Regions from separate parts of the Homo sapiens genome. Here region 2 is linked to region 1. The links come from fine-mapping of genetic effects on gene expression. Tissue or cell type: lung. Region 1 holds a variant in brackets; the other region holds the start of a gene. All regions are shown on one strand. Distances are from middle to middle.

The links. PIP is the estimated chance that this variant, and not a neighbour inherited with it, causes the effect.
Region 2: MYO16 starts here. The variant in region 1 is fine-mapped to the expression of MYO16 in lung (TOPMed, PIP above 0.99).

What each region holds. Positions count from the first base shown.
Region 1 is chr13:108,422,824-108,431,038 of GRCh38, forward strand. No RefSeq gene overlaps it. Among named protein-coding and RNA genes, the nearest start is that of TNFSF13B, 160 kb to the left of the region's middle. The variant C/T (reference allele first, on the strand shown) is at 4,047.
Region 2 is chr13:108,625,404-108,633,566 of GRCh38, forward strand. MYO16 (myosin XVI) reads left to right here and starts at 4,208. Exons shown (of 35, transcript NM_001198950.3): 1 at 4,208-4,469. The coding sequence starts at 4,442.

The sequences.
Region 1 (8,215 bases):
TCTCTGGAGTGACTACACGTGTCTACATCCCTACCTGTTAAAAATGCCCAAAGGATGTCTGTAGCTTTGGAATCAGGGACAAACTTGATATCCTAACTTCGTTACTTTTTTTTTCTTTTTCACCTCTGGCAATTTTGTCCACTTTCTTAGGAGCCGTAGGTATGTATTTAAAGATTTACTTCAATGTATCCCACATTTCCAGTTAGACAGTGGGATTGAATTTTAGAATATCCAGGCCTCCATATTGCTGGAAGTAAAATTTTAGAAACAGTTTGTCCATTGCCTTTGAAAAATTTGTTAGGATTTGCATTGCACTGAGGCCTTAATTACGGAAGAATTCACATCTTTACCACACTTCCTCCTACGAAGTGGAAAACCCCTTCATCTGTTCAGGTTTTATTTTTTGTCCTTTAGTCTAATTTTAGGGTTATCTTCATAAAGGATTTCTTCAGGGTTCGGTAGATTCATTCCTAGACATTTTCAAGTTTCTGAAGCTACTCCAAATGTCCTCTGAGTTCCTATTTTATTTTCTAATTGATTATGGCTGCTTTAGTGAACCACAGCTTGTTTCGAATGTTGTTCATGCCTCTGGCAATCTTGCTCAAGTTTGATAATAGTTCCAGAGGTTTGTTCATTAATGCTTCTGGGTTTTCAAGGTAAATATTTACATGATACCATCTGCATATATGACGGGAGTTTAATCTCTTTCCTTTAAGGGCGTCAGTCTCTTCCTTCATTTTCTTATAATGTGTTGCACATTATTCACCTGTAAGAGGAGTGTTTACTTTCCTTCAGGCTTAGGGGGAGGATTTAATATTTATCCAGTGTTTTCATTCAATGTGATGTTTGCTTTATGTTTTGAAATGTTTATATATCCTATAACAAGTTTAGAGGGAGTTCTATATTTGACACCCTAAAAACACTTTGTTTCCCACTTTAATCATGAAGTGAAGATTATCAAATTCCTTTTTGACAATATCAAGATGGTAATTTTTTTCTGTTTCAATTCATTATTGATATACGTACAATGTGAAACCATCTTTCATTTCCAGCAAACACCCTATTTGATTATAATATCATTTTTGCTAGAGTATACATTTGCTTTTGGGTATCAAATATATTTTTGGTAGCTAATATTTTATGTAAAATTGTTTCACCTATACAAATATATCAACATCAACTAGGATTTCCTTTACTTTTTACCACCCTTGTTTATTTTTGATGTTGGCATTCTAAGTCTTTTCCCTCATTTTCTATTCTCTGGACCATTTTATCTTCTTTGCCATATTCTGTAGCCACTTGTATAATATAGGAATTTCTTAAAACTTTGGCAGAATTCATTTGTAAAAACACATATGCCTGTAACTGTCATGCACACACGTGAGCGTGTATGTGAGAGAGAGAGAGAGATGCATGCATGTTGATGTGTGCAGGCTTTTAAAAGGAAAAGATTGGCGGGGCACAGTGGCTCACGCCTGTAGTCCCAGCACTTTGGAAGGCCCAGGCTGGGGGATGACCAGAGGTCAGGAGTTCGAGACCAGCCTGGCCAAAATAATGAAACCCTGTCTCTACTAAAAATACAAAAATTAGCTGGGCGTGGTGGTGGGTGGCTGTAATCCCAGGTACTCGGGAGGCTGAGGCAGGAGAATCACTTGAACCCAGGGGGCAGAGATTGCATGAGCCGAGACGGTGCCATTGCACTCCAGCCTGGGCAACAAAAGCGAAACTCCATCTAAAATAAATAAATAAATAAATAAAAATCTCTCTCTCTCTCACACACACACACACACACACACACACACACACACACACACACAAATAAAATAAAAATAAAAATAAAATATTTCGAATAGCATTATAAAATTATAAATTATTATTGACCATGCCACATTATTTCTCATTATGCTGTTTTATATTTTATAATGTTTTTGAAAAATTTAACCATGTAATTTAGGTTTTCAAATTCATTGGGGGTATCATTGTACAGAAATTTTAGACTATATTTTGAATCTTTAAATTTTTGAGTCATTTTGATAATTTTACCCTATAAAATCTGTTTCCTGCTTATTTGCATAAAATTTAAAAATCAGTATGTAGAATATTTTTTCCTATATCATTAGTCTTCTAAAAGAAACTTTTTTTTCCAGTTTGGTAATTAAATTTACTTTATTTCTATTGTATTTCATTTTTGTCTTCTCTTTAGTATTTTCTTTCTTGGTTTGTTTCTTTATGTTTAATCTGTTGACATTTTTCTTGCTTCTGAGTTCAGGATGAGTTTATTTCCTGATAAATGTTTTAGAAGCTGTATATTGCCCTCTGAATTCTGTCTGCATTCCATGCATTTTGATACCAGGAACTCACACTTGATGCCTGACGCTTGATTGCTAGTTATCGGGGGCCATCACTCCAGAGACCTTGAAGTGCGGTCTCCCTTTAGATTTCCTCCTTGCTGTGTGATGTGTCATATGTCACTGCCTGTCAAGAGCCAAGCTCTCATTCCAGAGACATAACTAACGGTGAAATAATGAAGAGCTGAAACAAACAGTCACATTAAATACCAAGCCCCACATTTCCTCAAAAGTTACCTACCTTTTTCTTTGTCCATTCAGGCTAATATAACAAAATACCATAGACTGGGTAGCTAGTAATCTAAAGGAATTTATTTATCACAGTTCTGGAAGCTGGGAAGTCCAAGATCATGGTGCCAGGAGGTTTAGTTTCTGGTGAGGAGGGCCCACTTTCTGGTTCATAGGGGGCACTTTCTAGGCATTCCCTCACATAGTGTAAGGAGCAAGGGAGTTCTTTGGGATCTCTATTATTATTATTATTATTATTTTTGAGAGAGAGTCTTGCTCTTGCCTAGGTTGGAGTACAGTGGCGTGATCTTGGCTCACTGCAACCTCTGCCTCCCAGGTTCAAGTGATTCTCCTGCCTCAGTGTCCTGAGTATCTGGGATTACAGGCACGTGCCACCACGCCCAGCTAATTTTTGTATTTTTAGTAGAGATGGGGTTTCACTTTGTTGACCAGGCTGGTCTTGAATTCCTGATCTCAGGTGATCCACCAGCCTCAGCCTCCCAAAGTACTAGGATTACAGGTGTGAGCCACCATGCCTAGCTGGGGGGTCTTTCTTATAAGAGCACTAATCTCAGCCATGAGAGATCCACCCTCATGACCCAATCACCTCCCAAAGTCCTCATACTCCTAATACCATCATCTTGGGAGTTAGGATTTCAACATAGGAATTTGGTGGGGGGACACAAACATGCAGACCATAGCACCTTTTCACCCCTCAGGGCTTTGCGGTAGCAAAAATATTCATTAATTCCTCAGTTATACAGTGAGTGTACACCAGGTACAAACCTACTGCAACGGGCCTTCAAGATAAACAATCAGTGGTTCCTTCCCCTTGAACCACACAGTACTCCTGTTCACAGTAAGAACAGCAGGGACAGAGAATAAGGGTTCTAACATGACCTAGCAAGATTAGGCCTCCATATTAGTAGTCACATTAACCTAAGAAAAGTTGTCTTCTAATGTAAGTGCTATTATGATATCTAATCTACATTCTAGGTGCCACATTCAATCAGGAATTTAATTGATATTTTCAGTTAAGAAATGTATTTTTCTGCCTTGTGGATTGACTGATCATCCTGTTCCTCTTTGATTCCAATTACATGATGTTTTCCAGACTAGTGTGTTCACTAACTGATAACTAGTAGTCTGATTTTTATATTATTTTATCTTTAACACAGTAAATCGTGGCAAGATTTTAAAGAGAATAAATAATCTTAGGTATTACACAAAACTCTAATTGTGAACTTTTGCTGGTTCATGTGATATTATGGGCTAACTATTGAATCAATATATTTCTGATGATAGTTTTGCTTTCTTTGATGTATTTGTTCATTCTCTCAATTAAATGATGAAACACTATGCATGTTCACCTAAGTTGTACATTGCAATAACTTGACGACGGTGGTCTGTGTTGTCACCTTGTTTATGGTATTGGCAATCCAGATGTGTGGAATGTTAATCAGGGAACAT[C/T]CATAGGCTATTTTGAGACTCTCAAAGAAAAGTCAAAAGGACAGTAAGCATGCTTAAGGATAAGTACTCCCAAAGAAGTTTAAAGAGCCAGGGTATTTAGAATACTGTAACCACAAAGCAAGAAAGTACTCAAAACAAACAAACAGAAAACTGGGGCATGTCAAAAGGACTCAGCAGGCAGCCTGAAGGGGCTCCCACTGGACAAATTTAGGACTGCACTCTTGACTGAAGGGCAAACCAAACAAAATAAAAAGGTTCTGCAAAGAACATTGTTGAGATATCTGACACATTTGGAATGCGGATGTTAAAGTATCATACCAAGGGTAAACCTTCTGATTTTGATAACTGTACTGTGGTCACATAAAATAATGGGAATGTCTCACTCTTATGAAATACACATTGATGTATTAAAGGATCAAGGAGAATGATATATCCAACCTACCCTCAAGGAGTTCTGAAGAAGCAAAAACAAATTGTGGCAAATGTTTAAAAAAATGGTGGATCCGGCTAAAGATGATTTGGAGGTTCTTTACACTGTTTTCTAATTTTCCTAAAAGTATAAAACGATTTCAAAATAAAACCAAAATAAAAAATTGGAAAAATTGCCTTATCCTCTTTTTCCATGGTATGAAAAGCAAGTCACAGAATCCTCACCGAGGGAGCTGAGTTCACAGTTTGCTGAGTCAATGTGTGAGTGTCACCAACATGACACATCTGCCCATGCACAGGAGAGAGGCGGGAAGCTGGCAACTGCTGCAGGGGATCCAAGGCTTCTTTATGCTTTATGTACCAGCAGAGACAGACACAGCCTTTATTTAGTTCTTGCATGATTGGTGAAATTGATCAAAAAGTCTTTAGTTTTTAGATAAAGTGAAGCTAAATAAAATAGTGTAGATCCCTACTATGCAAAACATGTGTGAGTGAGTGTATCTGGGTAATGCTCTTCCTATATCTTTCTGGTGTGCTCTTGCTAACTGTATAGGCAATTTGGTTAGATGTCACCTTAATCTGGTTAACAACCAGTTGTTGCCTGATAGTAGCTAACCAGAGATGAAGACAGTGTAAGGAAAAGAGCTTAAACAGCTTTTCTAGGCCTCCTGGACAAAAGACAACTCTTTAGCTGGTAATGATAGGTCATAGTGATTTCTCAGAATCAAAGATTTTTCTTTTAAATTCTTAACCCCCAACTTTGTGTGTTACCCCAGTGTATTTGCAGCAGGTCACTGTATTTGCAGCAGGTGGTTTCTGGGTTTTGGCAGGGGCTCTAAACTCCAAGCATAATGTAAGAACAATGGTGGTAAAAACATGCATATCCTAATAGCAATGCTAGAGATGAAAAATTGTTCCGCCAGCCCATCACCCACTTTGTAGATAAGAAATTGAACTGGAAGGTACAAGAAAGCAATAAAATTGTGAGACTGTTATGGTGTTTCTGCCTTTACTCGTGTGAAAGGGGGAGGGGGGGTTTCCTCCCAGCAAGCAAATGAGAAGGGGCTCTAAGAGTGTCTTCAGAGGGCTTGGCACATGTCCCTAGACTGAGAGACATGGAGACCGATATTTGACCCACAGTTAAAAGTCTAAAGGCAAGCAGCTAAGACCAGAGCTGCCACCTGAATGCTTGAAAAGCAAAGCAAAGTGGCTATGTGGGGACCAGCTACACTTCACAGTGAGAGGAAATGTTTGAGTTTTGGGGGAACCAAGTATGACCCTTCTGATGGAGGCTGGCTTGAAGTTTGCTTAAAAGGGATTCCACTCACGATAGGTGGAACAAAGAGACCCCCACAGAAGGATGGACTGCCCAGAGGCTAAAAGGTGAGTCGGAAGCAATCAGTAATAGAAGCTTGTGCCAAACTAACTGCAGTGGGAGGATCCCAGCTAAAGGTAGCACAGCCAGTGAAGGGCAGCCAAAGAAAGAGAGGGTGAGCTGCGGAAACATCCCTAGTGCTTGCTGAGCAAGGTCACAACTCCTGACTGCATAAGATGGTGCCATGCCCCTCAAGCTGTTCCCCATCTGGGCCTCATCCTGGGGCAGTCAAAAGTGGAAATCAGAAGACCAGGAAAGAGAAAACTGTGAAGAAAGAAGGGGGCCATCCCGCCTTCCTCCTCTACAGACTTCCTGAAGCAGGACAGAACTGGGGCAGGGAGCAGTTTACATTGGACCAGAACTTGGGATTCTGATTGTATACTAGGGAGAGCTCTTTAAAAGCTGAAATGAGGCTGCACTTGTGACCAAAAGAAACTGGAAAAGCTAGAAAGCCTTCCTGAAATTTTTCCTGGTAGCCCGGGAGAATGGTTCTGCTGGGTGAATTAACGGGGAGGGGTGAGAGAGTAGAGCGGCTTTCTGCTTCCAGCCTTTGGGATCCAGCATGTTCCATAAAGTGGTTTAACACTTCAAATCTTCATTTCAAGAGTTCCACAGAAAATTCAACATCAGGATTCCCAGGACTGAGCTCTTCATTATCTAATCTTATCCTCCTTTTGAAATCCCTGTCTCGGCAAACGGGACCATATCCCAAGCCAGCAGGGGTTGCTCCATTGCACCTACTGGTGTTTCCACCTCCAGCCTCATGAAACTCACCAGAGTTATCTTGCATACCACTGCAAGGCCATTGTCCTGCTAAAAGAAATGAGTTCATACACATTCTTTTTAATGTATCACCTGCGTTTCAGCCCAGGACATGGTACCCTTCATGCCAAATTTCTACACAGCTGTCTCATGTAAACTCTCCTCCTGCTTGAACCATAGGCATCTACACTCTGTGATAGGCATTGTACAGCCATGCTGAACTACGAAGGGATCCCCCAAGGATACCGTTTTTCATCACTCTGAGGCATCATATCTTCTGCTGGCATTATCTAAAATGGTATCTCCTTCTCCAAATTATATTTTGTCCTACAAAACTCAGGTTAAGCATCACTATTTCATAAGCTCTTCTCCTGGCACCACGTTCTAATTTATGTGATCTGCCTTAGTCCTCCCCTCATAATCTGCAGTTTACTGTATCAAAGCCCTTATCATACTTGGCCAGGAGAGCTGACTTACTTATTTTCTCTTCCTTACTGTACTTCACACTCTTGTATGTTTTGCTTGAAATTACATTTCAGCACAATATCTGATGCCAATTATGTGTTTACATATTGTTTGTTGGATAGATAGAAAAATAATGGGTGAATGGCTTTCTTAATGCAGTATATTATTATTATTTAAACCAAAAGCTTATGTTCAATAATGCTTTGCAGTTTGCAAATTGTTTCCTATGTATTATCCTATTTGTGTCTTACTTTACCCTATACAAAAAGAGAATCCAAAGTTAAGAGAAGTTAGAAAACTTTGACAGGTATCAAACAGTATTTCTTTTCTTACTTTTCTAACAATTGCAACTTTACAAAAGAGTTGGAATTGAAGCACAAAATTAATTTTTTTTCAGAACTACTTGAGTATCAGTAGCCAGTCCATTACCCATGAACACCGAATACTTTAGTGTTCTAATAAGGAAAATACAAGGCAAAACACAGCTGTCAAAATCAGGAATTAATATGGATAGATGACTACCTTATAGTCCTCAGACCCCATACAACTTTGCCACTTGTATCTATGATATCTTTTATATCAAAGGGTCAGAGGTAAGCATTGCAGTTGGTCTCTTCAGCCTTTTTCAGTCTCGAAGAATCCCTCGGTGTCCCCCTCCCTTGTATGTCATGATCTTGATGCCTTTGAGTAGGAAGTAGGGTATTTCTCAGTTTGGACTTTTATGCTGCTTACATGATGTGGTTAAGATTATGCATCTTTGGCAGAAGTGTCACAGAAGTTGCACTGTTTTTTTCTCATCCATCTTCGGGTGGTATGTGTTGTTGGTTTGTCCACACTGATGATCATGGATGAAGGTGTTGTCTTCCAGGATTTTACATGGCAAGGCTATATTTTCTGCTTTATAATTAATACATATTTTGTGGAGCTATATTCTGAAACTATGTAAATATCCTGTTTCTCATCATGCCTTCAAATTATTAATTTATTTTCATCTGTATGAACTCAGGATTTCATTTTCTAGTCAATGGGTCATAATCTATTACTCTTATTATTTACTTTGATGCTCCAGTTGTCTTTGAGTTAACCAGTGCTCTTGTTCAAACTGACTTATGAGTTCTTTTGACATTTCCATCATACT
Region 2 (8,163 bases), 200 kb after region 1:
ATTCTATAGCAAGAGCTGAGTGTATTTATGCCTTATTTTTTGACAACTCAGATATTTTCTCCTCTGTAGGCTTCAGCCTCAAAGGACCCTAAGTTATTAGACCGGAGTTATGTTCCCAGGAGAGGTCTTGACTCCATTCACCCAGAAGCAGTCAATATTTGTGATAGAGGAAATTATAAATTTAGCTGTCAGCCATTGTGTGTGAGACACCTGTGGCTCAAGGTCTCTAAATGTGTGTAATTTACTTCATCAAAGGCTAATATTTATAAGCCCCAACCTATTCACAGGGCAGAGGCAATGATGCCCCATCACAGAGCTTAAATTTGCATAACAAAAAACTGTTGTGTGTGATTTATATCTTCATTTAGAATTTTTGTCATGACCTACTGTTAATACGTACCTTTCCCAAATTGGTGATGTTTGCAAACTTTAGTTTTAATTTCTTCATTTAATAAAGCATGTCAATGCAGGCACTATTAGATTAGGAATTATCTGTCAGCAGACTGGCATTATGAAACTACATGTTTTACATTGTCCAAATAGGTTTTAAATGAAAACATTAAGTAGTATCTCACCTGGGGCCTTTTTGGAGCTGTGTCTCATGTATCCCATTTTAAAAGATATTTACTAAGCAATTTCTAACTTTTGAATGCTTATCTCTCATTAGAATCATTGCAGTTTCTTTTTTTGTTTTTGGCTGGGAAATAATTTAGCCTTATTTGAAAAAATCTGGTGTATAATAATGCTAACATTTAAGAGAAAAAAAATCATGTGTTCATATCAGAAATAGTGTGAATAATGAGCAGCTGTATGGTGTATAAAAGAGAAAAAGGGGTTTCTTGATTATTCAAAAATGAGTTTGAAATATTATGCATTCGTATTTGGAAAGAACAATAGTTCATTGTAATAATACTGAAAAATAATAAAATAATTGTGCTTTATGCGTTTGAAAATTTTCTGGAAATGCAAAACAATACCCTCTTTCGAACGCATGGATTTAATTTTGTACTTAATGACCATATTCTGCAAAATAGATAAATTGCTAACCATATATTTAATTTAGCCTTGGTCATTTCTTGCTACTGTCATCAACTCTGATACCATATTTAAAATATAAGATTTAGCCGGGCATGGTGGCTCATGCCTGTAATCCCAGCACTTTGGGAAGCCAAGGCAGGTGGCTCACCTGAGGTCAAGCCTGACCAGCCTGACTAACATGGTGAAATCTCATGTCTACTAAAACTACAAAAATTAGCTGGGCATGGTAGTGGGTGCCTGTAATTCCAGCTACTTGGGAGGCTGAAACAGGAGAATTGCTTGAAACCGGGAGGCAGAGGGTTGCAGTGAGCCAAGATCGCGCCATTGCACTGCAGCCTGGGTGACAGAGAGAAACTCCATCTCAAAAGAGAAAATAAAAGAAAAGAAAAATATATATGTGTGTGTATATATATATATGTATATTATACATGTATATATGTATATTTTATGTATATATGTATATTATATATATTATATATAGCTATATATAATATATATAAAAATATATATTGTATATAATATATATATTATATATTATATATATATATGATTGAAGGAGTCCTGAAATTATTGTTCTGACCACCCAACAGTGAGTTGAGTTTCTCAGGGATGGATATAGAGGAGGAAATTTTAATCAACTTCAAGTTACCATTTTTAAAAAATTTTATGAAGGAAGTAAAGTTAATGGAACCAAAATTATTTTCCTCAGTATTAATGCCTGCATTAGAAATTAATTTTTGTTTTGTAGTGATGAAATATGTAAATAGGTTTAAACATAGTTCTACCAATGTTTAGAGCATGAGTATGTGGTTTCAAAGACAAAAAGATAAAAGGGCTTCTTAATCTGGGGAAATTATATGTAGATACAGTTTATACATAGAAAGCACATTCTAAGTAGTTTAAGAAATCTGTGAATACATTTCTCAGTGTATCCTCCTTCAACTCCTCAAAGTGGATTAGATGTTGGCTCTTGTTGTTTTAGAGGTCTACATTTGTAGTCTTACAGTTTCTAGCACACAACACTGTGCTATCTTGATTGTCTCTATTTCATCTGACGATAAGCACTTTGAGGTCAGGGAGTCAAGTTTCTCTTATAGCACAAAGAGTTGCCAAATGTTTATGGAATACATGAGTCGATGAAAAATAAACACATTTGATAATGAGCCCCTGGAGATGAGATGTTAATTCTCACGGGGTACCTTGGTTAAAGTTCTTATAAGAAATGCCTTAAGTTATTGAAAAAAGTAGGGCTCAAATCAATTATATTTTTAATAACATATTTTCTTTGTCAAGTGCACAACATGCCCCTCTGAGTGTTATGCTTTTTTTCAGTTTAAAGAGTGAATGGTATCATTAAACTCAATTGTCTTAAGATGTTTGCTGAGTTTGTATACATGCAGAGGCATGCAATTTGCAGAAAATTAAGACATTCAGACATTTAAGGAAGGTATATAGGCAACATACTATTTATCCGGCATTGTATTAAGAGAAGGGGGTAGGGACATCTACATGGATACAACCTTACCCGAAGATACATTAGATAACATTCACATAAATTCACAGTTATTTTATGCACATGTAAAGATTTGTATTGATTTAAAGAGGAGAGAGCTTTACTTCCCGTGTTGGAAACAGATATAGTTGTGTCTTACAGTTTTATTGAAACATTACAAAACATCCAAGAAACCCTTTAAAAATACATTATAGATTCCTGGTATATAAAGGCTCTGTTTTAGACATATTTTATTCCTGAAAAGCACCCAAAATGGTGACTTTTGTGACAGTGACTCTCAATAATTAATTGTGGAATCAACGAATAAATGAGGAATCAGCATTCCTGATGAAGGCTGCAAATCCTCATTCTAATTTTTGGAAAAGCCAAGTTAAAGCGTCCATAATCATCATTTGGTACATACATAAGTTTTTTTCCTTGTTAATGTTAATGACAACTTTTCAATGAACACCAACAACAGAAACCAGAAATTTTATGTGCATTATTTCTAACCTTCAGAATAAAGATTAGGAATTATATTTCACATGCATAGATGAGGAAACTGAGGCTTTAGCAGGTTAAATAATGTGTTTACATTGATACTCTGGTAAGTGGTAGAAGCTGGATTTGACATCAGGCTGTTCTGTGCGAAATCTTCAACTTATTATTTTACATCACGCTACTAAAATGTGTTAGAATATTATTCAGTGAAAATGTAATAGTCATGACCCCTTGTTGTATAGATTTGAATTTCATAATCTTCTAGTTTAATAAAAGCACTGCTCTTTGAGTTTTGTTCAGTAAGGAATACAAAATTATGTTACTGCCACAGAAGGATGGGTGCACTTAACATATTGTTCATGTTTACCTTTCCTATAACCTCAAACCTGAAACATAAATTCTAGACTATGTCAACTTGTCTTTGGAGAAGATCATCATAAAAATGTATCAATTTGCAAAAAAAATGTATCACTTTGAATTTGTAAACAACTTAAAATATAACCTTTTGGTTTGCTACCATGGCTATTTCATTATGAGTATGATATTCACTTTTATAACAATAAACCCTAGCAGACCATATATTTCTTTCTGATTCCAATTCAGTCAGATTTACTTCATCCAGTTGGGTTGTACAGTTAAATTCATTGCAGTCTGCAGAGGTAGGAGAATCCTAAATTTTAAAGCTATGCAAACCAAAAGCTTTTTGTGGATAATTTAAGTTTTACATTCTGCTCAGAAAAGCAGAAAGATGTGTTTTGAAATATAATGCAAGTTTTTCATTACTAAGGACAGATCAAAGATCTCTGATTCTAAGAGGTGGCTATTTTAAGCTCCTGCTATCAATTTCCTATTCACACACAGCAACTGGTGGCAACTAAAAATAATCCGCTTTACTACCAGCTAAGAATCTGGTCATATGTGGCTGATGGACAGTGTGCACGAAGAAGATTTAGGATCCTTCTATCCGTGGCTTCTCTCCAGCCCACTCATCAGCTTAGTTTGCTGCCATTTGAAAGCTATTGAAAAGCCATTAACAGGCAGGACCGGGAGAGCCGCACTGCAGCACACCTCCGTGCAGCAGAATGTGGCTGCATGTGAACACCAATTAGAGCTGACTATTCCCGGGATTGTGGTACTCGGGGCTGTGTCAATCAAGGGTGCTACAATAGCACGTGCACCAGTGGTGCCTCAAGACCCACCGGGGAGAGGCTTATCTTAACTCCAGCTGCCGAATGAGAATGAGTTTGAAGCTTTTTGCAGGATCATGGAACAGAGCCTCCATGCAATAGTGCATCCTGAGGTAAACTGTTACCTGAGTAAGGGCTTTAAGTAATGCATTTCCTGGGAACGACAGTTGTGACAGAAGAGAATGCTGGAACCCGTAGCAAGATTCCTGTCTGAGATGGAAAGATGTCTCACTATCATTTTATCAAGTGCTGTAAGTAAGCTTGATATCTTGCTCATGTGGTTATTTGTCTTGTTGAAGTATTATTTTGTGCAGATGCCAAAATTAAGGCAGTTCTCCTGGTATACCACATTCAGATGAGTGACATAGACTGGTGACTTAGAAGAATATTTTACAGGCTGGATATATTTCCTTTTAATTTTAGATTGTGAAATAATTCCAGTGTGATCCAAATGCTAATAGCACAGAGATCTTTAAAACTTCAGCTTTTTAAAAAAAATGATTCATAGACACAGCAACCAGAAAAAAAAAAAAACACCAGAAACACATGGAAAGAAATTACAAAAGCATATTTTTGCTCATTGGCACATGTTAATAAAGTACATAAAAACTAAGTTTATTAATATATGGCTGAGGTCATTTAGCTAGTATTTTAGTCTCAAGTTTTACTGCTTAAGCCTCTATTCAATGCTTTTTGTAAGTGTGATCTTTAGGGTTATCCTTGACTGTAAACTTTTGTCCTTGTATCATTCACCTTGCGGTGCTTAGGGACTCCAGGGACTCTGTACCAAATGCTCTCCACTGATGTTCATATGGTGAAATTTAGTTTGTCACCAGGTTCTCTTTTGGGCTTATCAAGGGTTTCTTTAGCGTCTGAAATTTTGGCAGAATTTTCTGAGCTAGAGAATACTTCCATCTAAACCAATTCTGGATGGTAATAATGAAGAGGAAGACATATTTATCCAAAAATGGCTTGCTGGATATACATTTTTGTCCCCTGCAGCACTTCTGAAAACTTCTGTACATATATATCATGATCTTAAAGTGACAGATGACATTTGCAGAAAATGGTTTTCTTTTAAGCTTAAGGTTTTGCTGCCAAAGGACATCACAATGTTAAATTGAAGCAGCATATTAAGGGAACACATGTGTTGAATGAATCTTGAGCTTTGCACTAAAGGAGACTAAAAAAATAATGATGATTGAGAAGGTGAAAATATTTACCTTTCTCTTATTTTTGGTAGAGAATGTATACAGGAATTAAAACTATGATTAATGGAAATAAAAATGCCTTACTCTTAAGCATTGCCAAGAATGTCATGCTTTCATGTTGCAGAACAATTTCAATTCCCAAAAGGATTCACTGGTCATCTCGTAAGTTTGCAGATTAGCTCTTTAACTAATAAGAATTAGAGGCATGCAGCGTATTTAAGAATTTTGAGAATAGTCTTCTGCTTTAATCTGTTAACTCTTGGGGTTATTTTCTTGGAGAAATAGACACAGGGCAATACTCTGACTGGTTTTTGTATTGCCTCTCGTGTTTTACTGCACTAGCAGAATGTCATTATTTTCCTTGCTGTGCCTCTGCAGAGGAAAAACTCTGCATCTTTCCTACAAGGAACCTGGATGCTCATTAGACACATTGAACACACCTGGTGGAGGGCAGCCATGGAGCATGGGTGGAAGCACAAAGGGACAGTGACATGGACGTGAGAGATTCAGGGAGCAGTTGGTCACCAAACACAATATGAGTCTGCCCTTTCCTGCCTTTTGTTCTGTTTTAGTTGAATTATTTGATTGTAGAATTTCGGAAAATTGTAGACATTTCAGAAAATTGGTGATGTCAATTGGAGCCTGTGAGATATTTCTTTTAGCATGCTAGTATAAGAGATGAAATCTAAAATTAATGAATTTAAACATTCCTGATGCATTTCTGAAAGTAATTAGCAACTACTTACTAAAGATCTGACTGCTTTCTAAGCTTTGAGTGTGACAGTCTATAAAATGGAAAGGAAGCATGAATATTATGAAATGCTAACTTTACTGGAGAAATGGTGCGATGTGTTAAGGAGTTCAGAAATTATACTGCATTCTGTGCTGAACTAGTGAAGGGTGTTTTATGAAAAAAATGCATCTTGAGCTATATCTTGGAAGGATGAACAAAATATAGAAGAAGGCCGGGCGTGATGGCTCACGCTTGTAATCCCAGAACATTGGGAGGCCAAAGCAGGCGGATCACCTGAGGTCAGGAGTTTAAGACCAGTCTGGCCAACATAGTGAAACCCTGTCTCTACTAAAAATACAAAATTTTGCTGGGTGTGGTGGTGGGAGCCTGTAATCCCAGCTACTTGGGAGGTTGAGGCAGGAGAATTGCTTGAACCCGGGAGGCGGAGCTTGCGGTGAGCTGAGATCGCGCCATTGCACTCCAGCCTGGGTGACAAGAGCAAAACCCCAACTCAAAAAAAAAAAAAAAAAAAAAGAGTGAATGCCCTCATGGTATCCTAAGGGTTTATTGATAAGGATCATAATTCATGGTTTAATGGTTGTTCCTGATGCGTAAGATTTTCCCAAATTGTTGTCTCCCATATTGGGCTGATCTGCTGGCGAGGTTCATCGGCCTTCGTCACACTCCATTCCTTCTTCGCCTGTCCTGCATTTCTACCACATATCTGTCTTTCATTCTGAGCCAGATTTATCACCATAGCACGTTCACTTTCAAGCCAGACAGCAATGCAGGAAGTGGATGAATTCCAGGGCAGGAGCAGGACCTTCTGAAATGTGCAACATTAGCATCCCATGTGCTCCTAGTGAATCACAGGAAGCCTTCAGGTGGGATGCTGGGTGACCAATAGCTAATGCTCGCAAGGAACTGTTAGTCACCTGGGAAAATACTCATCATCTAAGGTGAAAAAATTATACGCTTCAAGGTCGAAACTTAATCTAACAGTTGTTATCTCCAGTTTATGATAATATCTGTTACTTTGTAAAACATTTTTACTTTATTTTAGAGAAGGGTTAAAAACTAGAGTGTAAAAATTTACTGTGGAAGCAGGATATAGCAGGAAAGTGTAGGAACACCACAGCAAAAAGTGTGGCCATTTCATGTATCTTGGTAGCTGAGAAGTAGCTTTAGACAGATCTGCAGTGAGAGCCAGTCTCAGAGCCCCATGCCTGTTGAGAGGTAACACATGAACATGACCAGGCCCCAGCTGAGGCGCAAGCAGAAATGAGAAATGGAACTCAAGGGAGTCATGGGCTCACAGAACTTTAAGGCCATGTGAGACTTGAAACTACTTTTGTTTTAATGAACTGAAGCGGAGGCTTGAGGTCTACCTGTGGAGTTCCCTTCACGTGCCTCTGGGGGTGAAGCATTGCAATAACTACACCTGACCTATTTCTCTCCTGGTTCAGCTCTTCTCTAAGCATACGGGTTTGGGGCAGCATTGTTTGCAGCAGGAGGAAGGTTAAAGTTATTTAAAATGAATATTCTCCAGAGCTGAGAATTCATTTACAACACCTAAGAACGAATTGTATCAGAAAATCTGTTACTTTATATGTTGTATTAGTCAGGGCTTTCTTGAGGGGCAGAACTAATAAGATAGATGTATATATAAAGGGGAGTTTATTAAGGAGAATTAACTCACACAATCACAAGGTGAGGTCCCACAATAGGCCATCTGCAAGCTAAGGAGCAAGGAAGCCAGTCAGAGTCCCAAAATATCAAAAGTAGGAAAGCTGACAGTGCAGCCTTTAGTCTGTGGTCAAAGGTCCAAGAGTCCAAAAGCGGAAGAACTTGGAGTCTGATGTTCAAGGGCAGGAAGCATCCAGCATGAGAGAAAGATGTAGGCTGGAAGACTCAGCCAGCCTGGTTCTTCCATGTTCCTCTGCCTGCTTTTATCCTAGCTGCACTGGCAGCTGATCAGATGGTGTCCATCCAGATCGAGGG